Linked DNA regions of Homo sapiens. The protein of the gene in region 4 purifies or fractionates together with the protein of the main gene of each other region. This does not show direct contact. Each region holds a gene or a part of one and is shown on either strand. Other genes may lie near its edges. The genes, in order: CCDC12, MORC2, NKAPD1, DHX8, AHCYL2, CACTIN and CDC40.

Region 1 (3,943 bases), on a different chromosome or scaffold from region 4:
GTCTTGGGCCACACATAATATGCAGTAACACTAATGATAGCTGATGAGCTTTAAAAAAAAAATCACAAAAAATATCTCATAATGTTTTAGGAAAGTTTACGAATTTGTGTTGGGCTGCATTTGAAGTGGTCCTGGGCCTTGGTCTGCGGGTTGGACAAGCTTGTTATAATCCCAGCATTTTGGGAGGTGGAGGCAGGAAGATCACTTGAGTCCAGGAGTTTGAGACCAGCCTGGGCAATATGACAAATCCCCATCTCCACAAAAAATACAAAAAATTAACCTGGAATGGTGTCGTGCACTTATAGTTCCAGCTACTTGGGAGACTGAGCAGGGAGAATTGCTTCAGCCTGGTAGGGGCAGAGGTTGCAATGAGCTGAGATCACGTCACTGCACCCCAGCCCGGGCAACAGTGTGAGACCCTGTCTCAAAAAAAAAAAAAAAAAAAGAAATATGGCTACTGCGACATTTAATTTTAGTTAGTTTACATTTAAACAGCCACACTTGACTCGTGATTGCCTTATTCGACGGTGCATCTCTGGAGGACTTGCTCCCTTCAGCCTGACTTACAAGAAACTGTGTCTCTACCTGAGCTCCAGTTGTTGAGCGCTAAGGGGCAAGTGGAAACCCAGATGACCATCACATCAGCCTTGGGAGCCCAAAGCTGGGCAGAGGGCTTGGAAGTTGGCCATATTCATGGCTGGTATCTCCATCAGATGCTGATTTGGGGCCATCTGTGTATGTACCCTGTGGAGTTAAGTGCTGGTGATTCAGAGTGGTATAGTTGTGATTTACACACTCAAGAAATGGGAGTGCGGGCCAGGTGTGGTGTCTCACGCCTGTAATCCCAGTACTTTGGGAGGCCAAAGTGGGCAGATCGCTTGAGCTCAGGAGTTCAAGACCAGCATGGGCAACATAACAAGACACCATCTCTACAAATATAAGTAAACAAAATTAGCCGGGCATGGTGGCCCGCTCCTGCAGTCCCAGCTATTCGGGAGGCTGAGGTGGGAGGATTAAAAAACAAACAGAAAGAAAAAAATGCACAGTGCAGAGAGTGGGAGCAATGCCAAGGTAGAAGGCATGCACTAGTACTCTCTGACTTGGGAGTACTAGGGAGGGTCCCTGGCCAGGTTGGGGGAGGGTAAAAGAGGGAACCAGAGGGAGGGGCTAGCAAGTCTTGCTGGAGGAACAGAGGCAGTGGGTGAGAGGCCTAGTATGCTGGGTGAGGAGTCAGACTTGTCCGTGTCCTGATCATGTCTCAAGAAGTTGCCTCTATCTACATCCCATGTGGCCACATCCCCAGGCCCAGCAGCCTGGTTGCAAAGTCAGCCAAGGCGATCACTGCCGCCTGTATTGACAGCTTTTGGCAGGTTGGCAGTCATAACATTTGCGTGGCAGTTGTGGCAGAATCGTGTTCCATCCCTGAAGCAGGACTTTGAAGCAGGGTGTATTGCTTCATCCCTGTCTGATAGACCAGGAAACCCTGGGCTGAAGGAACATCCCACAGTCGTGCTTTGAGTTGTTGCTGACCCTAGATTGTCCCTTAGGCTCTGGCCTTCTATCCCTCTACACCTCTCACCCCCAGGTGCTTGGGAATAAGTACCTCCCGGGAAGGAGCCTCCACCCATCACACATATAAACTGTAACCAGGCTGCCAGGTGGAGGCCTAGTGGTGGAGTGGAGAGAATGGACTTTGGAGACAGATCTGATTTAAACCTCTGCTCCATTAATCGCATCTATGGTACTCAGAGCAAGCCTTGAAAAATCTGAGCCTCTCTCTTGTCTATAAAATCGAGATACAGCTTCTGAACTCATCAGTAGCTAGGAGAACAGAGAAAGATGCTGTCTATGAAGTGTCTAGCTCGAGATCTTGCACACAGGCCTTTTATAAACGTGGATGCCTGTCCTTTCTTCTTTACCCTCTTGTAAGTGGGGACATCCAGGTGGTCCTGCAGCCTTCTCCGCTGGGTGACAGTGGGTGGAACTGGCCCGGTTCCAGTGGAAGCAAAGAGGTCCTTCTCCTGCACCCTGGCTTTACTCATCCTAGCCCTAATTTTTTGAAGATGGAGTGTTAGTGCAAAGTGTTAGATTAAGAAGAAAATGGATTTGCAGTCACAGCCGAGGTGGAGTGTGAGTGCCCGTTCTTCCTAAGGACTCAGCTTTTCTGCCCAAGCTCTCAGACTCCAAGGTTGTGGAGGCAGTGAGAGGGAGAATCTTCTGGGTGGGAGATTTGGGGTTCCCAACACATACCTATGGTGAGCCAGCATTTCCTTCTGAGGCCCTCAATATGTTCACGTATGAAATGATGGTGTTGGATTTATCTGAGTTTCTCAGACCTACCTGTTCGTTGGGTTGTCTTGAGAGACAATTTGCAGTCCTTTTTTCTGGCCCTACCTCAGACCTATTGTGGTCTTGGTATATAGCCTATAAATTCATGCATTCTTAAAGTTCCCCAGGTGATTCTGATGAATTTTTCTGGACATCTCTGATCAGTCCCTGGCATTCTCTCATTGGAAGAAGGATACTTTTTTTTCCCTTGGAACCTTAGCTGCCCATGCTCACTGCAGGAACTCTGCAGCTAGCCACTAATAAGTATTTATTGAGTACCAGCTGTATGACAGGCCCTGGGGATACAGCTATGAACAAGACTTCCTCCTTGCCTCAAGGGGCTTCTATGGAAGGAGTGGGAATACTTAGAAACAAGGAACATGGTGTCCCTGTTTATGTGTCCCAGGAACTTGGGAATGTGGTGTGTGTGTTGGGGAGAGGCTGTGCAGCTGCCCAGGCTGGGAAGACCACCACCTGGGAGTTCTGAGACGGGGATGGAGGAGTGAGATGCCAAGATCTAGGGAAGAGCATTCCAAGCTGAGCAAGACTAGCTTGGCATGTTTGAGGAGTAGGAGTAGAGTGAACAGTGGGAGGTATGGAAGGGGGATGAGGGTGGAGAGGGCCTGGGAGGCTGGGCTAGTTAGAAGGGGGCCTTGCAGACCACCAAGGCTGGACCTCAGGCTAAGGGGGTTGGGGAACCACTGGAGGTCTGAGCAAAGCTGACATGCCCTTGGATGACTGTGTGTGGAGGTAGGAGGCAGCTGCAGGAGCCCAGGTGTGAGGCAGTGCGCACAGACAGGGTTCCTGAGATGGCAAAGTACAGGGGAGAGGGGCTTTGAAGGGGAAGGCAAGAGTCTGGCTTTGGCCACATTAAGCCAGAGATGACTGTTAGACAGGTAAGCGAAGAGAGACATAAGCAGGCATCTGGACTAGAAACAGATACAGGATATCAAGCCCTGGGGCTAGACGAGGCCCTCTGGTGACAGAGCTTAGACCACAGAGACAGAGGACTGGGAGATCATTCTGTGCCCTGAGGCTCGCTCTGCAGGTATTTAGCAGGAGTTAGAAGAATCCAAGGAAACTTGGTGGGGTGGGGCGGCATGAGGACAGTGGGGCTGAGAGAAGCCAGGCGAAGACTGGGGATGGGTTTTGGCAAGACAAGGTGATAGGTGAGCTTGGTCCAGCTGTTTCAGGGAAGTGTGTGGTGCCAGTGGAATCCAGGCCAGCTGGGTTGAGGTGCAGCATGCTGGCCAAAGCCTTCCTGTAAATTAAGCCTCCTTTCCACTGCTTGAAGTCCTCACTGGACCCCAGCCGGGACATCCATCCCTCCTCTCAGGAGGGTAGCGCCAGTCTGAGGCAGTGCCCTTATAGCCTTGCTGTCTGAACTCACCTGGTGTTTGGATGCTGGCAGCCTTCTTGCTAGTGCTCAGGTCTTCATATTGCCACTCTAGCAACTCTAGCCCTTTTCTTTCGTTCTTTCTTTCTTTCTTTCTTTTTTTTTTTGAGACAGAGTCTCACTCTGTCGCCCAGGCTGGGGTGCAGTGGCGCAGTCTCAGCTCACTGCAGCCTCTGCCCCGCCCCGTGCTCAAGCCGTTCTCCTGCCTCAGCCACCTGA
Region 2 (4,633 bases), on a different chromosome or scaffold from region 4:
GGATTCAGAATAGAAGCCAAGCAGGGGACTGTTGTTAACCCCGAATATCCATTATGCATAGAAACAGCTCACATATCCCAGGGACTCAAACAGGGCTTCAAAATGGTTGTGAAGGGTCCCAAATGACATCTAGGCCTCAGTTTCCTCTCTGTAGCATGAAGAAATTGTGATTCTTAACTCTTCTGGGTCACAGCCCCCTTGGAAAACTTGCTAGCGATGGATCATCATTCCCCTAAAACGCACATTCCCACAAATTCCCATCATTCCCCCAAACCGCACATTCCCACAATTTCAGGAAGTTTGGGGATCCCCAACTCCAATCCAAGGTTCCCAGGTTCAAAACCCAAGGATTGGGGAACTGCTAAGTTTTCTTACAACTCAAAAAAAATTATAAACAATAACCATCCTTTACGTACACCCACGCTTTATAGTTTACAAAGCGATTTCAACCCCACACACATTGATAGGCAGAGGAGGAAACTGAGGCGCAGACAAATTACAGAGTGACTCGCCTAAGGTCACTCCGCCAACTGGTGGCTAGGCCCGGAAGAAAACCCAGCTCTTCCGACTCCGGAGCTCGTCTCCCCACCCCGGGGCTGCCGCCAGAGCTCCCGCCCCTCACTAAGGCGGCATAAGGAGGAAAAGGCAAAGTAGAAATCCCACAACCAACCATCCTCCGGCCCCCTCCTGCCCCCCCAACTGGGTCCTTGCAGGCCCCGAAGGGTGGCGCCAGGCCTCCAAGCCGGCCCCGGCCACCCCCGCCTCCCCGGCCGCTCCAAATCCCGCGGCCGCTGCCGCCGCCGCCTCCCCCGGAGCGGGGCGGAGCAGCTGCCCGCCGCCGCCGACCACCCGGACGACTCCTCGTCGAATCGCAAACGCATAGGCCGCCGCCCGAGTTCTGCGTACGAGAAGAAAGACGCGGCGCGAGCGCCAACGGCCACCGGGCGCGCGCCGCGGCGGCCGGGCCTGCGCCCCAAGAGCTGGATGCCAGAGCAGGAGAAAGAGCCGCCAACCGATCGCTCGATCGACCGCACGCCCGTTCCTTCGCCCTACCAGACCCGGGAGGGGGGGAGGGCGCGCCAGGGCTTCTTCGATTTAGGGGCCTGACTCCCCGGCGACGAGACAAGATGGCTCCTCCGGTCCGCACCGCAGCTACCGTCCCGGCTGCGTCGCTCGGCCCGCCCCCGGTACTGTTTCTTTAAATGGCGGAGAGGGTCAGGAAAGCAGGAAGAGAGGCGCACGCTGTCACGTGACAGGGGCGGGACCGGCCAACCAAGATCCGGTCACATGGGGACACGCAGCCCGCCAATCAGGAGGCTGTACATCAGGGCGGGGGCGGGAGGAGCTGCAGCTTTGTGATTGGCTGAATGCTCCGCGGAGGCCTCGGGGGCTTGGGGCGTCGGGGAGTGTGCGAGGTGGCCGGGGCTGTGTGCACTATCGGAGACAAAGCGGTGGCTGTGGTGTCTGTGACGGCGGCGGCAGAGCAGCTCTAAACGCCGAATTTCGTGTTGCTGAATCCTGTCACCATCTCAACTAGCGCGGCGCGCGGGCGGCGCGCGGGCGGCGGCGGAGGCAGCGGCGGCGGCGGCGGAGGCGGCAGCAGCACATGGTTCCAAGAGCGCTCTGCGGCTGTTGGGTTCCAATTCCGCGGGGAGGGACAAAGGCAGTTGTGAGATCCGGGTAGTGCCCGGTCAGGTGGTGCGCTCGCCACTGCCCTCGATCCGGTCCTTGGAAGCCGGGAGTAGCTCCTCTTCGTGGGGAGGCGGCCACGGGACCGAGGCCCGGGAAGGGCCTGGGAGGCTGAGGCTGTTGTCTGAGGGACGTGGGGGCGGGGCGCGGCCTGCCCGAGGTGCTGTGGGCGGGTCATTTGTGAGGTGTTTATGTGGGCCAAGTGTGAGGTAATCTGACCACCACCCTGAACTGGGTTTGGTCCGGCTTTGAAAAAAGAAATCGTGAGTGCCTAGGAGCTTTTTCACTTGGGAGGTGGTGAAGCTGCAACTTGCGCCATATAACACTCCGTCGACATCTTGGTCTCCGGTCTTGGGCCTGTTTAAGAATCCTGGCATCACGTGTGGCGAAGACATGGCTGATCAGTTTTCTGACAGAAGTGGGTAAATTTCCGCGTTGGTAAATTTCCTGACAGGAAATTTCGGGGAACCAAAAAAGGCTGGAAGAACATGAAGATGGAGCAGTCATAAACCACCCACTCAAGGACCATCTCCTTCAGGACCATCCACACGAGACTCAGATTGTCTGAATTGAGCTATCGCAACTTAATGCTAAAAGCTCCTTAAAGCTACAGATTTATGACATAGTTCCTTCCAAAATATTACATCATAAATCATTGAGAAGATTAAAAAAAAACACTTGAAGAAATTGTAGTTTTAAACATCTCTGCATATATTTTGGATAGCTACTAGGTTACTTTAACTGTCATTAAGGAGCACAGACTTACTGAAGCTTTACTGGACAGAATCCTGGGAAATCGATATCATTATAAGGTTATATTTCCCAGTTAGCGGGTGAAGGGCTGGAGACCTTATTGCAGTCATGGCTTTCACAAATTACAGCAGTCTGAATCGAGCTCAGCTAACCTTTGAATATCTGCACACAAATTCGTAAGTATCCTCTAGGTGCCACTGAGGTAACCAGTAACTCGTTCCTTGATATTATATGGAAATCGTTTCCCCAGAAAATTTTGCTTTTTCACTTTTTGAGATGTATCCCACTGGAGTGAAATGTGTCACTGGATATCTTGAGCTCTGTATTGAAGAACTGAGATCAGTGAAATACTTGTTGCTAATCCAGAAGAATCTGATTTTTGTTTATTGGATCAAAATTTTCTAAATGCAAACTTTAGTTATTTGAAGTCAATATGTTGAGTTGTTTCATTCAAGTGTTTATAGGAATCCAACAAATACTGCTCTATTGGATCGCCAAATGTTGGACTATTTTAGTATCAACCGTTTCCCCTCTGTAGTGACAACGTCCTAAACAGTTAGGTTTATAACAAGTGTTTACTTTCTAACAAGAAAACAGAAGACATTTAAATGACAACTTTCAAGAAGAAAATTTTTATTTTTTCAGAAGTTGGCATTATCTTCCTGGCAGATTGCTCACATCCAATATTATTTGTATATGCTAAACAGGAAACGGCAACTTGTTTATATCTCTATTTAGATAGTCTTTCCCCAAAATTTCCACAGAAACATACAGTGTTCATGGTTCTTGAGTTCATGAAGGAGTAATCTAATCACTCCAACATGGTCTGGAATGTTTCAGGTTTAATCCATATGCCCACTCTCTTGGAGGCTGTCCAGTAGCGTCAAAACTTTAGTGTTTTAATACATTCACCTGTTACTTTTGAGATGAAGGTAAGTGTTCTAACATTCTAGTACCTGGAGAGGAGATGAGCAGCTACATGAATGGTCCAGTCTCTGAAGAACCCACTTCAGAGTCGAGAGTATAGACTTCCATTATGTAGTAATAGTACAATGGTTTTTAGCTTTTGATGGAGAAGACAACATGTTTGTGATATCATAATGTCTGTAATATTTCTATTTTTCCTTTAAAGGGAATAAAATTTTGCCAAGTAGTGAAGCAAACTGTCAAATGGTGAAAGCCTGTTTTTATTTTTTTTAGGAAGTTTGTTATTTTTTTGAGAGACGGAGTCTTGCTCTGTTGCTCAGGCTAGAGTGGGGTGGCGCAATCTTGGCTCACTGCAACCTTCACCTCCCAGGTTCAAACGATTCTCCTGCCTCAGCTTCCCAAGTAGCTGGGACTACAGGCATGCACCACCACGCCCAGCTAATTTTTGTATTTTTTTAGAGAGACGGGGTTTCACTATATGTTGGCCAGGCTGGTCCCGAACTCCTGACTTCAGGTGATCCACCCACCTTGGCCTCCCAAAGTGCTGGGATTACAGGCATGAGCCACCATGGCCGGCCTGTAGCAGTCACCTAGGTTGAATTCTAACACTTAAGTATGATGACCCTGAAACACACTTGGGTGAGGTTGCTGATTAGTGATTATTCAGCTAGTTGATAGCATAGCCTTGGGAAAAAACTTTAGTGTCCTTTTTAATGTTTGAACTGCCATATTAAGAACAAGCAGTTGAAGGCCACTTAAATGTTCATGGATGACTGTGTTTGATAAATGGTTATCTCAGCTCTGAATTTTGGAATGATGGTAAGTCTGGAATTACAGATTTTATGATAATCTTGGAAGACCATGAACTGGACTTCAGAATTTCAGTTCTTGTTCCAGCTTCACCAAAGACTTTATGGGATAATAATAGTAACAACAGTTAATTGCTTCATATCAGTCACTATTTTAAACATTGTCCAAAGCAATCTTTACAGGAAGCCTTTGGGATAAGGATTATTCCTATTTTGCATTTGAGGAAACTGAGGTTCAAAGAGATTAAATTACATGGTAATGGCTATATAGCTGCCAAGTGGCAGACTTAAACGGTGCCAAGATTTAAGACAGTGGGATTTATCTGGCCACAGTAGTTGGTGCTTTTAACCATTAGGCAGTGCCTACTGTAGTCAGTTTTACCTTCAAGAGCCTATTTGCTTGTCTATAAAGCAAAGGGTATACTTCACAGTTTAAAAGTCTTCAATTTTAGTTT
Region 3 (3,943 bases), on a different chromosome or scaffold from region 4:
ATTTTAAGACCAAGCACTTTATTAGAAATCTGTCCCGTAAAGAGAACAAATTTAGCAGTTAGAACTAAAAATACCAACTCATGGAATGTCATCATAGTTGTATCTACTGCTGGTGTCTTATACTGTCATGCTACTGTGAAGTAATTCCGTATTACACATCAGGAAAGTAAGGCCAGGAAGGTGAACTTACCTGCTCTGGGCCTCCTCATAACCAATGAGTGGCAGAACCAAGACCGAAAGTCTGAGTTTTCAAGCTTTTTACTCAGCCCATTAAGTGACAACCAGGAAAAAATAATACGTCACTTGATCTTTCTTCCCACAGTGAAAAAATGCACTTGCGTTCTGCCAGCCTTCTTTCAGTGATATGTTGGTTTCTTAAGAATTAACATACTAAGGATCACAGTATAGCAAAGGGAATTAATGTGGTCTCTGCTTGGTGCTTTAATCCAAAGGCAGACTGGGAAGAAGTGGATATGTCCCTGAGAAGCCTGTTTCATTTTGGAAATAATTCAACTTAGTTTCAGGGAAAACCTAAACTTCATGAACAGATTTAGAAATGAACAAGACAACATTTAAATGGCAGTTGCTGCCCTGAATCCAGAGTACCATTAGACAACATGATTATTTCCTAATTCTTCCCCATTTGGTACAGGATTATCTATGACAATTGAAGAAATAATTTGAACACAAGTCCATTTAGGCAAATATACAGCAATGGAACTAGAAAACCATTTACTATCCAATTACCATGTTTAGGCATATACTAAGTATAGCTATAGGCCCCATCCAGCAGGGAAATTTGCAAAAACTCTAGTCCCTTCTAATAAGTTGTCTATGGATGTTATCATGAAGGGAAAAGGTTTGTTCTTAGGCCCATGTCCTGATTAAGTAAACCGGACCACACCTGTGGGGTCAAAATATAGAAGGATCAAAGCACCAAGGCTAAAGACAAGTTAGTTGTGACACCTGCTATATAAACAGAGAGCAATACAGTGTTGCCTTGTCATACCATCCTACATGGCATTAGTTCCAATCCACCTCTTGATCCCAGCCCTTGACTTCCCCAAATTCAATATTCCGATTGGTGTACCCAGGTCACTATTGGATCCAGCTTTCTGGGTCCTTTAATTTGCTGTATATGCACTCTACACTAAACGTAATTAATTGCAAAAAAAAATAATCTCTTCAAGAAACCTTCATAACAAAATACCAGATTCCCTTTTAACAAGAAAAGGGGATCAAGCTTAACGCCAAAATAGAAGACAAGACGTCTGTCAGAACATACAGATGGCACAAGACAGCTCTGACCTCAGGCCCCGTGCTGAACAAGAGTCACTGGCAAAACCACAAGGAGTAAGAACTGTAAATATCCACAGTCATGTGGAAAACAAAAGTGTTTCCCATTTAGTCATCCTCTGAGCTCTCAGCAGACCTTTCATCTGTAGCTACTTTCCAATTTGTGCGTTTGTTTGTCCTCTCCTGTATTTCATTGTTGGCTACAGAGGTATGGGCTTTTTTCTCTCTCTTTTTCCTTTTGGTTTTCTTAGTGTCTCTTTCCTCACTTTCCTCAGAACTGCTGGATGCTGAATCATCTGAATGTGAAGTGTTACTTTCTGCCTCTAAGAATAAAGCAGGTTTTTTGAGAGACTTTTTCCTGGATTTTTTCTTGCGTTTATGTGGTTGTTTCCCTTTCCTTGTACCAGAAGCCCCAGTTTCTTCTGAGAACTCACTCGAGGAATCTGCTGTTATATCTGTGGCTTCCTTTTTGCTTTTCTTCTGTTTTTTGTGTGACCTTTTTTTCTGCTTTTTTTTGTGGGATTTCTTTGACTTCTTGTGTTTGCGGGATTCATGGGTAGATGACTTTACCTGGGGAGATGTTTTCTTCCCGTTGGTAATATCTTGCTGATCACTACTAATAAGAAAAGTTAAAAAATAGAAGCTTTTATGTAAAAAAAAAGCGTATTATTTTAATATTTTGCATTCTAGATTAAAAAATTGAGGTTAACATCTGAATTTTAAATAAGCACTTTAATGTATACTTTAACACTTTAATATTCTCATTGAGTTTTTGTTTCCTCATCTTTAAAATGAAGGTAAAAATTCTAAGCTGCCATACTGAGTTACTGTATGGAATACTATATATAAAAACCAAAATGCTTACAGACATGCCAAACATCAACCAGAGAATGGGAAAACAGGGATCACCTCCTAACTAAATCACCTATTGTTTCTCTAGCTACATTTTTGATGGCAAGTATATTCTTCGTAAAAGTTAAGAAATCAATTTATAATACAGATTTTGTACCATCTTAGTTTCTTTCAGTAAGCCTATTTTCCTTACCTGTCTGTTTCAAATTCTTCAGGGTATAACTCTTTATAACCACTGTGACCCCATCTGTAATATGACACATCACATGTATTGTTAAAGCAATGCATACATTTTTGGAAATTAAAGCAACATTAGAAAGACTTTGGAGTACATGCATACACAAACATAAACACAAAGTAGAGATATGGTAGAACCAAGCCCCCATTATAGCTCAGTAACAGCTACATTTCCTGTACTGTACACTATCACTTCAGACATACAAGATTATTTTGTCCATTTGTAAGAGAACTTGCCATTGCTTTCCTTAAGAAACACTAACGAACTCTTACACTCTGCTCTTTAGCTATGAAGCACTTTTCCAAAAACACTTCATAATATCATGCTGTCTACATGGGGACAATTTTTTTTTTTTTTTTTGAGATGGAGTCTCACTCTTGCCCAGGCTGGAGTGCAGTGGCGTGATCTCAGCTCACTGCAACCTCCGCCTCCCGATTTCAAGTGATTCTCCTGCCTTAGCCTCCCGAGTAGCTGGGACTACAGGCACATGCTACCATGCCTGGCTAATTTTTGTATTTTTAGTAGAGATGGGGTTTCATTATGTTGGCCAGGCTGGTCTCAAACTCCTGACCTCATGGATCTGCCCGCTTTGGCCTCCCAAAGTGCTGGGATTACAAGCATGAGCCACCGCGCCCAGCCTTATTATTATTTTTTTCTTTTTTTCTTGAGACAGAGTCTCACTCAGTTGCCAGGCTGGAGTGCAGTGGTGCAATCTCGGCTCAACTGCAACCTCCACCTCCTGGGTTCAAGTGATTCTCCTGCCTCAGCCTCCCGAGTAGCTGGGACTACAGGCGCATGCCACCACGCCCGGCTAATTTTTGTATTTTTAGTAGAGCTGGGGTTTCACCATGTTGGCTAGGATGGTCTCAATCTCTTGACCTCGTGATCCGCCCGCCTCGGCCTCCCAAAGTACTGGGATTACAGGCATGAGCCACAGCACCTGGCCTATTTTTTTTAAATAACAACTTTATTGAAGTATAATTCACATATCATGGCATTCAAAGTGTAGTGCCTCCAGCCCAGGGCAATCACTAATCTGCCTTCTGTCTCTATGGAATTGCCTACCACATAAATGGAATCATACAGTTATGTATGGACATAGTACATAAATAGAATCATACAATATGCGGTCTTTCGTGACTTGGCTTCTTCCTTCTCACTTAGCATGATGTTTTCAAGGCCACGTTGTAACATGTATCTGTACTTCATTTCTTTTACTGCCAAATAATATTCCATTGTATGGATATATCGCATTTTGTTTACCCATTCATCAGTTGACAGACATTTGGATTACTTGGCCATTATTTTTTGGGGCCATTATTAATAATGCTGGTATGAACTTTTGTACACAAGTTTTTTGTGGGGACAATTAATTTTGATAAGTACACGTTCTCAGGCCAAATATTAATGCTCACAGGAATTAATCACAAACCTGTCTGGCATGTTTGCTTCATAATCATAGAACTTTTTATTCCAGGATTTAGCCTTAAGAAAATCATCTTCCAGTGTCCCAGAAATTTCATTCTTTGGCCTCCAATAGTATCTTTGACTTTCTTC
Region 4 (3,943 bases):
AATAAAATAAAAAAAGTGTAACATGGTTTGTGAATTACATCTCGATATAGCAGTTATTTAAAAAGGGGAGAGTGCTGCGCATGGTGGCCATACCTGTAATTCCATTACTTTGGGAGGGTGAGATGGGTGGATTGCTTTAGCCCAGGAGTTCGAGACCAGCCTGGCAACATAGAGTGACCTCTTCTCGCTTGAGCCCAGAAGGTCGGGGCTGCAGTGAGTCAGGATTGCACCACTGCACTCCCACTTGGATGACAGAGCAAGACCCTACCTAAAAAAAAATAATTCCAGTGTCAAGCAGTCAGGTCTTCACTTCTCTCAACTAACCTTTTTTCTGACATCACAGGTGTGTAGCACCACTTGTTACAGTCTCTTTCCCATTCCCTGCTGCCCCTTCTATATTCTTTTCTTCACATTAATTTGTTTCTTTGAGTACTTTTGATCACGGGTCGCTGAATTGAGATGCTGCATGTGCAGTGCCCGCATGCCATTTTATTTTTTTCCTGGTACATCTTGAGGTAGCTTGAGGACAATACTAAGTTGCCTGTTTTCCTTTCCAGCGGAAGGCAGACAGATTGCTGCCAACATGAGGGGTATTGGGATGATGCCCAATGATATTCCTGAGTGGAAGAAGCATGCCTTTGGGGGCAACAAAGCCTCTTACGGAAAAAAGACCCAGATGTCAATCCTTGAGCAGAGGGAGAGCCTGCCCATCTACAAACTGAAGGAGCAATTGGTCCAGGTGAGAAGACTTTTATGATGTATTGGTGGGGAGTAGGGTTATTGTCTAAAAGAGGGGTGATATTTTTAAACTGAAACTAACGGGACAAGTATGTGCCTACTTGAAGTGGCTCATCCAAAAGAGTTAAGAAAGAAGGATAAAACTTTCTAAATACTTTTTTTTTAAATGGGGCTGGGCGCGGTAGTGGATGCCTATAATCCCAGCACATCAGAGGCCAAGGCAGGAGGATCACTTGAGCCTAGGAGTTTGAAACCAGCCTGAGGCAACATAGGGAATCTTGTCTCTACAAAAAATAAAAAATTTGGTGGGGCGTGGTGGCCCACACCTGTAATCCGGCACTTTGGGAGGCAAAGGTGGGCGGATCACAAGTTCAGGAGTTCGAGACCATCCTGGCCAACACGGTGAAACCTTGTCTCTACTAAAAATACAAAAAATTAGCTGGGCGTGGTGGCGCATGCCTATAATCCCAGCTACTCTGGAGTCTGAGGCAGGAGAATCGCTTGAATCAGGGAGTCGGAGGTTGCAGTGAGTCAAGATCACGCCGCTGCACTCCAGCCTGGCTACAGAGAGAGACTCTGTCTAAAAAAAAAAAAATTACCTGGGTGTGGTGGTCCATGCCTGTAATCCCAGCTACTCGGGAGGCTGAGATAAGAGGATTGCTTGAGCCTGAGAGGTCGCGGCTACAGTGAACTGCAATCACACCACTGCACTCCAGCCTGGGCGACCAAGTGAGACCCCATATCACAAATGTTTGTGTGTGCGTGTACAGACACACATACTTATGTATGTGTCTGTATATCTTCTTTTTCCTGGGGCCCCTAGAACAGTTTCCAAGTGGGCAGAGTATTGTGTTGCATGGACCAACAGCTCTGTTCAGTAATTAAAAATGAGGATACTCAGTCAATAAACTCATATGGGCAACTCATAGAGTGCTTCGGTACTCTATATTCTGGAGTTCTGATTTTAAGACCACCGAGTCTTCCTTGAGGTAATCAGGTTTACTAGTTTCTAGTGAATCCTTTCAACAATATCTTATATGTATACAAGCAAGTACAAATATATGCACACACACGCACACACATTTTATATGAGTACTGTGTGTGTTTACAGGTGGCAGTGATATTATATACACTGTTCTACATCTTTTTCCACTTAATGATATATCTCAGAGATTTGTGTGTGTGTGTGTGTATGTGTGTGTGACAGAGTCTCGCTTTGTGCAGGCTGGAGTACAGTGGCTTGATCTCAGCTCACTGCAACCTCTACCTCCTGGGCTCAAGTGATCTTCCCACCTCAGACTCCCAAGTAGATGGGACTACAAGGCATACACCATCATGCTCAGCTAGTTTTTTGTATTTTTTGTAGAGATGCGGTCTCACTATATTGTCCAGGCTGGTCTTGAACTCCTGGACTCAAGCAATCCTCCCTCCTTGGCCTCCCAAAGTGCTAGGATTACAGGCATGAGCCACTGTGCCTGGCCTTCTTAAACAAACAAACAAAAAAAATTGCCAGGCCAGGCACAGTGGCTCACACCTGTAATCCCAATACTTTGGGAGGCCAAGGCGGGCGGATCACCTGAGGTCAGGAGTTCGAGACCAGCCTGGCCAACATGGTGAAACCCTGTCTCTACTAAAAGTACAAAAATTAGCCGGGCGTGCTGGCGGGCACTTGCAGTCCCAGCTACTTGGGAGGCTGAGGCAGGAGAATCACTTGAATCCGGAAGGTGGAGGTTGCAATGAGCTGAGATCATGCCACTGCACTCCAGCATGGGCGACAGAGTGAGACTTCATCTCAAAAAAAAAAAAAAAGCCTTTTTTTATGGGCTGTATTATTTGGATAGGCTCTGGTTTATTTAACTAGTCCTATATCCATAGAAACATCGTTGATTGTAATCCTTGGCTGTTACAAACAACGTAGAAATAAGAAATAACTTTTGGGGAAAGATATAGAAATTTGGGAGTTACAGTGGGAAGGAACATTTTTTATGTATCTTTTAAATTCATTGTTGACTTCTTTAACTATATGTGTATATTCCTCTTTTCTTTGGTGTTAGAATATAGTAATTATTTTATTCCAGAGTAATGTAGATTTTAATGACCATATTTATATTCTGTTTAATGACCATATTTATATTCTGGCAGATTTTAATGACCATATTTATATTCTGTTGCTTTCAGGCCGTCCATGACAATCAGATCCTGATTGTCATTGGTGAGACAGGATCTGGAAAGACAACACAGATCACCCAGTACCTGGCGGAGGCAGGCTACACTTCCAGGGGCAAGATTGGGTGTACCCAGCCCAGAAGAGTGGCAGCTATGTCGGTGGCCAAAAGAGTGTCAGAGGAGTTTGGTTGTTGCTTAGGCCAAGAGGTAAGTAGATAGTGGAGTCGCTCGAAAAATACCAGAAGCAAAGGCCCAGGTCTCTTAATCTATCAAATGGAAATATTAATAATACTGCCTTTTTTCAGGTTTCTCCTGAGGGAGAGAGGGTTCCCATTGTCATAATCAGTCTGTTCAGAGTATAGTCTAAGACATACCTTACTATGAGGAAATTACTGTACATCTTGATCAGATTCTTAAGATTATGAGTGAGAGTGACTGGGCTGAAATCTTGCCTGGTGATTGGGAAAAGGAGACATTTGTATCCTAGGTTTTCCCCTTCTCTTCTGCTTTAGGTGGGCTACACCATTCGATTTGAGGACTGCACTAGCCCTGAAACAGTCATCAAGTACATGACAGATGGGATGTTGCTTAGAGAGTGCTTGATTGACCCTGACCTCACTCAGTACGCGATCATCATGTTGGACGAGGCACATGAGAGGACAATTCACACTGATGTGCTCTTTGGATTGTTGAAAAAGGTAACTAGATGCTCTTTAATGACCCCTCTACCTGTTGGAAGCTGAATTCTGGCAGTTGGATTTGAGTACCTGTGTCTTTGGGTAGTCCTTTTCAGTAAGCCACATAATATTTCTCTTCAGACAGTTCAGAAACGGCAGGACATGAAGCTGATTGTCACCTCAGCCACCTTGGATGCAGTGAAGTTTTCTCAATACTTCTATGAAGCTCCCATTTTCACCATCCCAGGTCGAACATATCCAGTGGAAATACTGTACACAAAGGAACCTGAGACAGATTATCTGGATGCCAGCCTGATTACTGTTATGCAGATTCATTTAACAGAACCACCAGGTAAGGGGAA
Region 5 (3,784 bases), on a different chromosome or scaffold from region 4:
TGCTCACCCTGTGTGTTAGGTTATTTATTTATTAAAATCAAGAATCCTGTGCCTGTAGTGTTGGCCCAGAGTGTGGTTACTGCCCTGAGGGCCATGAAAGCCACAGAGGATGGGCTGAGGAAGGAAAGAAATGGGGTTACTGCTCCCAGTGCATCATTTGCATCATTCCCCATTGACTGAATCCTCAGCAGTGGCCGTTTTTCCTCTTGTCCAGGCTCACGAGTTAGTCCAGGGATTCCATACTCCCTATTCCCTGGAGTTTTCTGGAATAAATTTTCAGCACCTGCTTTTCTCAGCTTGGCCCTTCCCCGGGTGAGGCCGTTTGGAATTAACATGGCCAGTGTTTCACACAAGATTGGGTTCCCAATCTTGACCATCACTATCACTGCCTTCTTTATATAAAGGCTAATAAGGAAGGAGTGTTATTTATGGCTTTGCCAAGCTACATCAAGAACTCAGCTGTGCTGTGCCTACCAGGGGTCTCCTTTCTTACCCAGGACTCCTTTCTTCTCCTTGAATATTTATGTCCATTTTAACACTTCCTGGTTGCAAGAGGGATGTGCCTCCATTATTTCCTCCACAGTTTTGGTATTTGTCAGACATTTGTTCTGCTGTCTTTCTAATCCAGCCAACGTCTGCTCAGGAAGTGGGGCCAGCTCCACTGGGACCCATAGTTTTACTTCCTTGTCATTTGATTGGATAGTTTCCAAGGAAGCCCCTCCAGATTGGCACTATCTCAGAAAAGGAGAGCTTGTTGTGAAACACTGCTTCCTGAAACTTCCTGCTATTGCCTAAAGCTACGTCTGAAACTGAGTAGGGAAAGGCATACTTTTCCAGGGACTTAGGGGGATAGGCTTTGGAAATGGGACAGGTCTTTCAGACTCACAGCTTGATACCCTAACAAAGCAGAGTATATTTATTTGTTTCCCAGGAAGGCCATTGCAGTTTGACTGGCTGAGGGATACAGAGATGAAATTGTAAACTGTATCCAGATTATCAAAGCTAATTTGACTAGTTTGAACCTCGTCAGACATTCATTCCTTTGGCCATTGCCATGGATGAAACCGAGATCTGCAGTCTGATCTGTGGACTTCTCTGCTGGCATATCTTTTATGATTTAACCTCTTCCATTTGATGATTCTGTATTTCAGAGTCAGTTTCTTGAGTAACTCCAGTGCTACAAAAAGAATTAGTAATGTGGTGTGGGCAGCGTGACATTTTATGTCCCACCCAAAAATTGGATTCCTTTTGGAGACTGATCTGTTGGTCTCAGGCATTTCATTAGGACCAGATTGGTTCTAAGAGTTAGTCTGGACTGGCCCTAGGAAACTTGAATTAAATAAGCCTCTTCCCCTTACCGATCCTTTTTAACACTCTCAGGTTTGTTTGTTTCCCACTTTTTTCCTATGCTGGTCTGCCTCAAAGTCTCAAGACCAAGGTGACTCAAGATAACACCAGACCACGCATGATCACCAAAACCTTCCCATCCTGATTCTCTTCTTCTACCTCTACCCTCTCCAACTTCTCCTGGTCTTCACATATACTCTCAAAGCTAGTCTGAAAGTGACCTTACTTTCGGAAGTAGGGAAGTGGAACTTTGGTAAATGACTGTTTGCCTCATTTAATAGTATACAGGCTCAGCCCATAGACTACAGTTCTTCAGAGGCCATATGTCTCAGCAAGTACTGGTTATATTCTTTTTTTGTAAGGAAGATCATAAATGCTAAAAATTCCACTAAGCCATTCAGTTCTTCCTTTTGCCTACCTAGTCCTGATTTTTGTATTAATTGGTTCCCTTTAGCAAGGGATTCAGATCTTTGTACCTTATCTTATATCCAGAGCAGATTCCATTTGGCAGATAGATGGTCTCTAGCCTATTGTATTCTTAGACCAAAAATCATAACCTGCTGTTTCTCAGCAAAGCCTTGCTCTCTGGAGCTTACTATGTGCTGGTACTTAAAGAGTACATTCTGCCTTGCTGTAGTGAAGAGACCCACTCCAAATAAAAAAGGGGCCACACGGGGCTTCTAAGTTAGGTTGCCAGTGTTGCTGCCCATGATGAGTTATTTGCCTCTGAGTTTCAGATGACCTCTCTGTAGGGACACTGTGTTATCAACCATTAAGAAGAAAGAACCACAAGCCTCCCAAGTATTTGGGTTCTATCTTAGGGTTGAAATCTGGTCATTATTCCCTCTACCCTTGGAATCAGAGCAATGTGTCTTCTTTCCTCCAACCTCTTACCTTAGATGCATCCTGGTTATCTGGAAGCATGGGAAAGAAGGCTACTTATCTCTTTGTATGTGGCTCCAGTCTGTGAGGATACATAACATTTTCTCTACAATGAATCTGTGCTAATATTTTGCCTTCTTTCTTTCTTTTCTTTTCACCCTTAGAGACAGGGTTTCACTATGTTGCCCAGGCTGGTCTCAAACTCCTGGGCTCAAGCAATCCTCCTGCCTCAGCTTCCTGAGTAGCTGGAACCACAGGTGTGTGCTACCGTGCCTGGCACTTTTTTGCCTTCTTAATGGAGATATTCAGTTTTCTTTTTTTCATTTAAACAAAGAAAAAAAATGTATCTACTCTACCTTCCCTCTGCTCTCCTCCCTCCCTATCCTACTTGCCCATATGAGCACGGCTCCCCATGGCCACATACTCCTGCAAAGCTTTTATGCTGCTTCGCTTTTCTCTAAACAGATCTGATATTGCTGCTCCTGTGGTTTTCTCAAAATTAACTTTGCCGTGGTTTTTAAAAAGGAATCAAAATGCATTGTTGCATTAAGCTTTTTCAATAAAGGAAAATTACGGAAGGAAAATAGGCAACACCAGCAAATTATATGTGGACAGGTTCTAAACTCTATATATACATATATATATATATATCTATATATCTATATACGTAATCATCTAGTTCTGTCATCTTACTGAAAGGAATAACACTTCTAAAGATCACCATTTCTGAGAAGTTCTTGGAAATCTTTATGTCTAAGTGATTGTATTAGATCAGCAATAATGACTATGTAATCTCAAAAAACAAATAAAATATTCTTAACATGGACTCTTAAGGGTATTTCTTGTTTCTGTGAACTAGAAATTCAGAGATGAGAGAGATCTCTGGGCAACAAACTAGAGATCCTGCTGTAGGGCAAGGATGTGAAAATGTTACCAATGGGCATGTTTGACCTTAGGATGTGAAAATGTTACCAATAGGCATGTTTGACCTTAGTTAATAAATATCATGTTCCCCTCCTACCAGCCAGCATACACGCGCATCCTGGCTGTGTGTGTAAAGAACCTGTCTTCTCAGAACCACCACCCTGGGGAGTCGAGGACTGTAGGCTTAACTCAGAGAAACTAAACCATAGTTCTAGGTCCCTGACTCCCTTTTAGTTGAAAAATGCAGGAAATCAGCATCCCCCAGTTTGGGACCAAAGGACCTTGATAACTAGGACCTGATTATATCCAGCCAAAGGGAAGAAAGAAGTGCATCAGGCAGAGATTTGTCTCTAAATCAAGTTGCCTGATTTAACCAAAGGATAATCCAATTGCCTATTCTTTCTCAACTGCCAGTAGGGTAACCATCTTTGGGTAGCTTTCTGATAGCCACCTTCTTTAGTTGACTACCTAAACTAGTTCTGCATCCTGTATGCAAGATGTTTTCTTTTCATAGCAGAATCTTCTGCCACTTTGGCTTCTGATTATTTAGATTAAGGGACACAGGGCTAGAATCGTCTGGGCAGTCAGTAATCCTCAAAATTAGTGCCATTCCAGTTAAGAGGAGGAGAAT
Region 6 (3,943 bases), on a different chromosome or scaffold from region 4:
GCAGCGCTCAGGGATGCGAAGCCGGAGCCCCCCGCGGCCCAAGTGGCACTCAAGAGATGGGTCCTCTCAGTCGGACTCAGGAGAGGAGCAGTCACGGGGCCAGTGGGCTCGCCGGCGACGGCGCGCACGCTCGTGGTCTCCTAGCTCCTCAGCATCCAGCTCCGCGTCTCCAGGGCGATCCCAGAGCCCCCGGGCGGCCGCGGCTGCCCTGAGCCAGCAGCAGAGCCTGCAGGAGCGGCTGCGGCTGCGGGAGGAGCGGAAGCAGCAGGAGGAGCTGATGAAGGCCTTCGAGACGCCCGAGGAGAAGCGCGCACGGCGGCTGGCCAAGAAGGAGGCCAAGGAGCGCAAGAAGCGGGAGAAGATGGGCTGGGGTGAGGAGTACATGGGCTACACCAACACCGACAACCCCTTCGGAGACAACAACCTGCTGGGCACCTTCATCTGGAATAAGGTGGGCCCCGCCGGGTGGTGGCCTCTGTCCCTGTAGCATTTCCACTGTTTCTGGAGACCCCAACACTTGAGACACTCCCAGCCTGCCCTTGATCGTGCAAGAGTTGGTTTTACACACACACGCATAAGCAAGCTTCTGCCGCTATCAGCTTTCTTTTTTGACACAGGGTCTCGCTCTGTCGCCCAGGCTGGAGTGAAGTGGTGTGATCTCGGCTCACTGCAAGCTCCACCTCCCGGGTTCATGCCATTCTCCTGCCTCAGCCTCCTGAGTAGCTGGGGCTACAGGCGCCCGCTACCACGCCCGGCTAATTTTTTGTATTTTTAGTAGAGACAGGGTTTCACCATGTTAGCCAGGATGGTCTCGATCTCCTGACCTTGTGATCCACCCGCCTTGGCCTCCCAAAGTGCTGGGATTACAGGCGTGAGCCACCACGCCCGGCCAGCTTTCTTTTTTGACTCAGGGTCTCGCTCTGTCACCCAGGCTGGAGTGCAGTGGCGTGATCGTGGCTAACTGCAGCCTTGACCTCCTGGCCTCAAGCGATCCTCCTACCTCAGCGTTTTGACTTGCTGGGACTACAGGCACCACCACCATGCCCGGCTAATTTTTTATTTTTTTGTAAAGATGGAGTCTCACTATGTTGGCCAGGCTGGTCTCGAACTCCTAAGCTCAAGTGATTTTCCCACCTCGGCCTCCCAGAGTTCTGGGATTACAGGCATGAGCCACTGCGCCCAGCCCACCGTCATTTTCTTGCCATTAACTGTGTCTCTTGCGGTGTAAGCTTCAGCCATTCTTTGCCCCGAACACCAGCCCAACCTGAAACCTATCTAGAGAGCCAGCTCTTGGCATCATGTACCCAGGACAGGGTTCCACAGTTCCAGGCGCTCTGTCGTCTGAGCTGGTTCTTTCGTTCTGCGCCTGCCATTTAGCCACCAGTCACACCAGTGGCATAAGACAACAGAACTTATCATCTCTTCGTTCTGGAGTCCAGAAGTCCAAAATCAAGGCGTGGGCAGGTGTGGGCAGGACCCCACTCCCTCTGGGGGCCGAGGGGAGGCCCCTCCTGCCTCTCCCAGCTCCAGTCATGGCCGGTGATTCCTGGGCCCTCCCTGGCTTGCAGCCGCAGAACCCGGCCTGTTCCTGTGTTGTGTGGCGGTCTGCCTTCCCGTCTCTGTCTCCATACGGCCTTCTGCTCTGTGTGTCTGTGTGTAAATGTTCCTCTTCCCATGAGGACACCAGGCATTGGATGAGGGCCCGCCACCTCCAGGATGACCTCATCTTACCTACGTCTGCAAGACCTCATCACTTTTTTTTTTTTTTTTTTTTTGAGATGGAGTCTCACTCTGTTGCCCAGACTAGAATGCAAAGGCGCAATCTCGGCTCACTGCAACCTCCGCTTCCTGGGTTCAAGTGATTCCCCTGCCCCAGCCTCCCAAGTAGCTGGAATTACAGGCGGGTGCCACCACACTCAGCTAATTTTTGTATTTTTAGTAGACAGAGTTTAACCATGTTGGTCAGGCTGGTCTCGAACTCCTGACCTCAAGTGATCTGCCCGCCTTGGCCTCCCAATATGCTGGGATTACAGGTGTCAGCCACCATACCTGGCCAAGACCTCATTTCACATGGGGTCATGATTACAGCTGCAGGGGTTCAGACGGGGATGTGCCTGTGGGGGACACAGCTCATCTGAAGCAGCATCCACTTGTGGAGGGGGTGGAGCAGGCAACGTGTGGGCTGGGCCGACTGCACCTGCTCGCCGGTTGCGCAGTTGGGAGCTGTGGGGTCTCCAGGTGGCTTCTGCCCGATGTCGTCTGAGAACACAACGAGCTCCTTCCGCCTCGGGGCCCTCACACTGCCGCGCCCCTGCCTGGACATGCTCTGCCCCTTCCCCGGCTGTTCTCTTCCGTCAGGCCTCAACTGACACATCCCCTCTTGAGAGACCCCTTCCTGGCCCCTTGCTCCCCAGACCCCCCAGAGTTCTTTATTGAGGCACACACTGCTGCCTGGCACTTCATCGCCACCATGTGCTGTGCACCTGCGGTGTGCTGGGCACCACCGTGAGCTCTGGGCGGGCAGCCATGGAGGAGGAAGATGTGGTCATCGTTGACGCCTGTGGAAGCGGCCCCAGGCTGGGTTGGATAGACCACAGAGTGGCCCGGGTGTCTGGGGGTGGTCCCCAGCCAGGCAGCCTGTGTCCCTGGAGGCAAGTTCTGGGCGGCAGGGGTTCCTGGAACCCCCTCATGGCGACGGGGCACCGGGAGCCTGAGGAAGGTGGTCGGGAAGTGGGGGCTCCGCGCCAGGCTCTCAGACAGCTGCTGGAAGAAGCCAGCTTTGAGGGTCTCCAGGCTGGGACAAGCCCATCAGTGGCCACCCCTGTGCCCCGCTGTGTGGGCGGGGCCCCATGACCCCACAGGTTTGCTTTCAGAGCTGCTGCTGCCCCCACTCACTGTTCCTGCCCTGTCCCACGTGCAGTGGGGGACCCTGACTTGCTGAGGGCGTGGCCTTCACGTCCGAAGCACTCAGACTCCCGGGTAAAGCGAGTCAGCAGGCCCCGAGCAAGGCTCTTCTGTTGGGGGCTGGGGTGGCCCCGAGCAAGGCCCTCCTGTTGGGAGTTGGGGCGGCCCCGAGTGAGGCCCTCCTGTTGAGAGTTGGGGTAGCCCCTTCTTACCCTTTGCATACATCTCACTCCCAGTGGGGGCTCCATGTCTGCACTGAATTGGATGCACTGGGTTTCAGGAGTGTTAAGGAGGGGGTGGAAGACGTGCAGTGCTGGCAGGTCACCTCTCTCTGCAAAACAAGGGCCCTGGTCAATCTCTTGGACGAAGGAGCTGAGGAGGGGGGCGAGGGGGCGGGTCTGTGCTCAGGGCAGGTGTGCCTGGTGCTTCCAGGCCCTGGAGAAGAAGGGGATCAGCCACCTGGAGGAGAAGGAGCTGAAGGAGCGGAACAAGAGGATCCAGGAGGACAACCGGCTGGAGCTGCAGAAGGTAGGCACCCTGCCAGCCCACTGGGCAGGGCCCTCCCTTTCCAGGGCCTGGAGGCCCGCCCCCTTTGGCAGGACTTGAGGGGCTTAAGTGGGAAGTCCTGGGGGCTGGCTTCAGGTAAGGCTGGATCCAGGGGCTCAGACCATGGCCCCAGGAAACTGTTTCCCTCCACCTCTCGGCTCTGCTGGCCTCGGGCCTTCACTCCCACATGCTCCCTTCAGGGTGGCCGAGAGGGCCCCAGCTGATCTGAGCTGCTGAGTCTCGGGCAGGAGGGCCCTCTCCCTTCCCAAGGTCTGTCCACCAGCCCAGGCATCTCCGGACCAATCCCTGTGCCCAGGGCAGCTGGGTGAAGGCTGGGCCCCCATCATCACAGCCCCTCCCCCCGCAGCCCTGCAGACCGCACGGTCCCCGCTGCCCTCAGCCTCCTGTGCCTGCAGGTGAAGCAGCTGCGGCTGGAGCGGGAGCGGGAGAAGGCCATGCGCGAGCAGGAGCTGGAGATGCTGCAGCGCGAGAA
Region 7 (3,943 bases), on a different chromosome or scaffold from region 4:
ATATTAAAGCTCTTCAGATGATTACAATGTGTGGCCAGAATTGAGAACCACTGCTAAAGTGCTGAAGAATATGGGCTTTGGCATCAGAGAGAGCTTCGTTTGAACCCAAGTCTGCTACTTATTAGCTGTGTGACCCTGAAAAAGTTAGCTCTTTAAGCCTCAGTTTCCTTATCTATAATATAATAATAGTACTTACCTCATAGGGATAAATTAAGATTGAAGGAGACACTGAATATCAGTGCTTAGCAATTATGCCTGTTAAATGATGTTTAATAAACATTAACTATTATCATTACCCTTCAGATGCAGTAAGGGTAATGACAGTAAGACAATAAGATAGTAAGATAATTTTTATAATTACATAAAATTATACTAGCCACAACATATTAATGTGAATCAATTAATAAACAGCAATTAGTATGGCTGTGAATATATAAAACCAACTGGCCTGTGAAAGTTGAGACCTACATTTTAATCAATTTGCGCAAATACATTTAATTTTGTTCATTAGACATTTATTGCACTTCTGTTATGTGCAATGCACAGTGCTAGGTGATGTAGGGGAACAAAAAAATCAATTAGATGGCCTATACAAGATTTCCACTTTGCTTATTTGTCAGTACGTTTGCTTTATAAAATCTATCTGGTGGAAACAAGTTTCACAGTGAAAGAGCTACTCATGCTCAGTTTCGACTTACAAATGTATTTTGTGATATTTGCTGACAGTGAATGGTATGAGAATCAGCAGTTAGAGAAGGTGCCATTTTGCCACAAAAGACTACTCACACCATTTCAAATATAAATAACTTGTAAGATGAATGTGTATTAGCATAAGTGAACTCTTACCTGTCTCAGTGTCCCAGAGCTTAAGATACCTGTCATAGGCTGCACTGAGGAACTGTGTTCCTGCAGTATTGAAGCAGATATCCCTAACAGCCTTACTGTGACCTAAAGGTGGAGTCAACAGAAACAGCAATGAGGTGAAGTATCATATATCTTCTTCTCTTAAAACATTAACACCATAAAGACAAACAGCACTAAGCAGTGGTTCTCAGCTGTGAGTCAAGATCACTGGAATGCCACCGCCTGATTTACTGACTTAGAATATGTTATGTGTGGGCTTCAGAATGTGGGCGTTTTTTTCCCCTTGAAGAAGCTCCTCAGGTGATTCTGATGCATAACATCTTGGTTAAGAACCAAGAGGAAAAGGTTTAACTTTTCTTTTAAGTCTGCCATAGCAATTACTTAATATGCAGTACATACAAGTGATGACTAGCTAGCCAAGAATTTATGGAAATGTAAAAGACCAATTATTGCCAGTGAAAGAAATGGCTGCTGGAATTTTGGAGGTTCACTCTCAGAATGTCCACCAGGCTGCAAGTGAAAACAAAGTGCCCCAAACCTAAAGTTCAGGAAACTGTAGCCCTTGTTCAATAATTGTATATTTCTGTGATCACATTACCAAATTTCATAGAAACTGATTCAGAATGTAGGAGACTTTCTGAAAACTATATTAGCTTGCATGGTTTTTTATTTTTATTTTGAGATAGGGTCTTGCTCTGTTGCCCAGCCTGAAGTGCAGTGGCTGGATCTCAGCTCACTGTAAGCTCAACCTTCCTGGCTCAAGCGATCCACCCACCTCAGCTTTTCGAGTAGCTGGGATTACAGGTGCACACCACAACGCCTGGCTAATTTCTGTATTTTCTGTAGAGACAGGGTTTTGCCATGTTGCCCAGGCTACCTTCTTTTGCTTTAAGATGATATTTTGATAATACACTAATTTTAAGGTGCTGATTATTATACTTTACTTAAAAATGAATATTGCCAGTTCACTCAACTCTTTTAAAAGTTACAGGGAAAAATAAAATGTGGCTAAACAAAAGCAAAAATGTTCCTATTTTTGCCACCCCACCATGACCAAGACACGTACAATTGTGCAAAATGAGCATGGCACAAATTGTTAACCACATGCAGCAGCTCTAAACCATCACCTCCAGTGAACTCCCATCAGGAGGTACGTGTCATGGTAATTAGGCATCCTTTTCTACAGCTGGAGTCCCAGTCAGAGCTTCTATCATCTCCTTCAGGAGGAAAATTTCAGTTTTCCACAGAAAAATGGTCTGCCAGTAGAGGGGAGACAGATGCGGACCAAATCCACTCTATCTGATGGAGACATTTTGTTCCCCTGTACACAGCTGAGAGCCTTCCACAAGTCTTCCTTTAGGCTGCGGTGACATCTTAGGCAGTATTAATTTGTGCAGGGAGGCCTTAAAATCATAAAGCACTGCTGAACAGACTCCCACTTTAATCTAAAAACAGAGCCACTACGAGTCACACCGTTTCAACGTGGTACAGTTAAATTTGGAATGAGTAACTAGCCTTCACATGAAATCTGACAAAGACAATAAACCTTTCTCTACCAAAAATCTGGTTTGTCACAAAGCTGTCCTCCCTTTGGCCTTCTTTCTTTCTTCAAGGAGTTCTCTCAATCTCATCCTTTTTTTATGCTTTAGCTGTCAATTCCCAGTCTCTCTTCAAAGCTCGACCTCTGGCTATCTAATTGCTTACTGAACATTTTTACCTCAATATCCCAAAGGCAGCTCAAATTTGGTGTATCTAAAACCTTACCATCATCTTATGTTCCTTCTTGGTGAATGGCACCATCGTTCATCCAGCCTCATGGGAGTCACTCTAGATTCCTGTCTCACTGTGATCATTCACATGCCGTTACTAAATCTCACTGACTTTAACTCTAATACGTAGTTCCTTTCTTTTCTCTCTCTGCTGCTTTGGTTCAGGCGCTCATCATCTCTAAACCAGACCTATGAAATAACTGTGTAATTAATTTCCCTTCCTCCAGGCTTGCCCTACCAAATCATCCTGCATATTGCCATTTGATCTTTGTAAACTTCAAATCATGTTGCTTTCCGGCAAGAGCTCTTTAATGGTTCCCCAATGCCCTCACAACAGAGGCTAAACTCTTTATTAATGGCACAGGAGGTCTTCCATACTCTGGTCCCTCTCTTGCTACTTTTCTCCGCTTTTGTCTCTCACCATCCCCCATACTCTGACAATCCTGAAATGTACGTGGATCCCCTCAGCAGCACGCTGTCTCACACCATTTTTGTTTTGCATCCGCTGCTCTTGCTTCCTAGTTCTCTTTCTTTGTCTAACTGGGGACACTGACTCCTCCTTCCAGATTCAGCTGAAATCTATGAAGAGTTTACTTCCTATCGGTGTAGTAAAGTTATTGTCAATGATGTTATCTTACTTTAAAAATTCTTCCCAGATTTATGTTGGAGAGAAAAGAAGCATTACCAATAAATGTTCTCAGACAGCGCCGTTCTCCATAAACCTCCCATAGCTGGGGGAGAAAAAAAACAACACATGGAAATATTACATTTAATAAAGGTCCTTCAATTAATAACAACAGCCCTATGCTGGTTATGTGTGTGCACATCTGTGTGTGTAAACGCACAGCTTCAATCATTAAATATTAAACACTGAATATCATTAAATATAGCTTGGTGCTGCCAGTTTGTGTTATATTATTTGGAACACACACACACAGAGTCACACACGCTCAAAACTAAAGAGTTTTAAAGATATTTACATCAAAAAAGAGACTTAACTATAGATGGAGTTAATTCAGGTAAGTTTTCATTTTCATATTGTTCTTTTCTATTTCATACATTTTCTAGGATGAAAAGTTTCTACTTTTGTAGCACTACAAATGACGTTTAAAGGAATTGTTATTAAAACTGCCATGTATATAACATTTTGATACTGAAAGCCTTTTCTGTTTACTTTTCTGAATAACAAGTATTACAGAAGCTGTAAGAAAATGATGATCTAGACTAAAATAAAAGGCTCATAATTCTCAGCATATCTAAGGTGGATTAATACAATAGCTTCAAGGCTAGCTTTATTCTTGACTGCCTTG

The links.
Region 1: the proteins of DHX8 (region 4) and CCDC12 purify together in Homo sapiens (affinity purification with mass spectrometry; 4 studies listed by BioGRID and IntAct, with this or other methods). This does not show direct contact.
Region 2: the proteins of DHX8 (region 4) and MORC2 purify together in Homo sapiens (affinity purification with mass spectrometry; 3 studies listed by BioGRID and IntAct, with this or other methods). This does not show direct contact.
Region 3: the proteins of DHX8 (region 4) and NKAPD1 purify together in Homo sapiens (affinity purification with mass spectrometry; 4 studies listed by BioGRID and IntAct, with this or other methods). This does not show direct contact.
Region 5: the proteins of DHX8 (region 4) and AHCYL2 purify together in Homo sapiens (affinity purification with mass spectrometry; 3 studies listed by BioGRID and IntAct, with this or other methods). This does not show direct contact.
Region 6: the proteins of DHX8 (region 4) and CACTIN purify together in Homo sapiens (affinity purification with mass spectrometry; 4 studies listed by BioGRID and IntAct, with this or other methods). This does not show direct contact.
Region 7: the proteins of DHX8 (region 4) and CDC40 purify together in Homo sapiens (affinity purification with mass spectrometry; 3 studies listed by BioGRID and IntAct, with this or other methods). This does not show direct contact.

Annotation. Positions count from the first base shown.
Region 1 is NC_000003.12:46,966,404-46,970,346, reverse strand, and holds part of CCDC12 (coiled-coil domain-containing protein 12), read left to right. Parts: intron 1-3,943.
Region 2 is NC_000022.11:30,965,807-30,970,439, reverse strand, and holds the start of MORC2 (ATPase MORC2), read left to right. Parts: upstream 1-1,665; 5' UTR 1,666-2,550; coding exon 2,551-2,618; exon of another isoform or gene 2,619-3,374; intron 3,375-4,633. Other genes in the region: TUG1 (taurine up-regulated 1), read right to left, coding at 622-1,083. UniProt on the Homo sapiens protein: Essential for epigenetic silencing by the HUSH (human silencing hub) complex. Recruited by HUSH to target site in heterochromatin, the ATPase activity and homodimerization are critical for HUSH-mediated silencing.
Region 3 is NC_000011.10:112,080,434-112,084,376, reverse strand, and holds part of NKAPD1 (uncharacterized protein NKAPD1), read right to left. Parts: coding exon 3,819-3,943; intron 2,396-3,818; coding exon 2,342-2,395; intron 1,913-2,341; coding exon 1,405-1,912; 3' UTR 1-1,404.
Region 4 is NC_000017.11:43,504,087-43,508,029, forward strand, and holds part of DHX8 (ATP-dependent RNA helicase DHX8), read left to right. Parts: intron 1-557; coding exon 558-739; intron 740-2,916; coding exon 2,917-3,111; intron 3,112-3,416; coding exon 3,417-3,602; intron 3,603-3,722; coding exon 3,723-3,933; intron 3,934-3,943.
Region 5 is NC_000007.14:129,427,157-129,430,940, forward strand, and holds the end of AHCYL2 (adenosylhomocysteinase 3), read left to right. Parts: 3' UTR 1-3,055; downstream 3,056-3,784. UniProt on the Homo sapiens protein: May regulate the electrogenic sodium/bicarbonate cotransporter SLC4A4 activity and Mg(2+)-sensitivity. On the contrary of its homolog AHCYL1, does not regulate ITPR1 sensitivity to inositol 1,4,5-trisphosphate.
Region 6 is NC_000019.10:3,620,196-3,624,138, reverse strand, and holds part of CACTIN (splicing factor Cactin), read left to right. Parts: coding exon 1-451; intron 452-3,336; coding exon 3,337-3,432; intron 3,433-3,866; coding exon 3,867-3,943. UniProt on the Homo sapiens protein: Plays a role in pre-mRNA splicing by facilitating excision of a subset of introns. Required for the splicing of CDCA5/Sororin, a regulator of sister chromatid cohesion. Involved in the regulation of innate immune response.
Region 7 is NC_000006.12:110,214,707-110,218,649, reverse strand, and holds part of CDC40 (pre-mRNA-processing factor 17), read right to left. Parts: intron 3,365-3,943; coding exon 3,319-3,364; intron 949-3,318; coding exon 847-948; intron 1-846. UniProt on the Homo sapiens protein: Required for pre-mRNA splicing as component of the activated spliceosome. Plays an important role in embryonic brain development; this function does not require proline isomerization.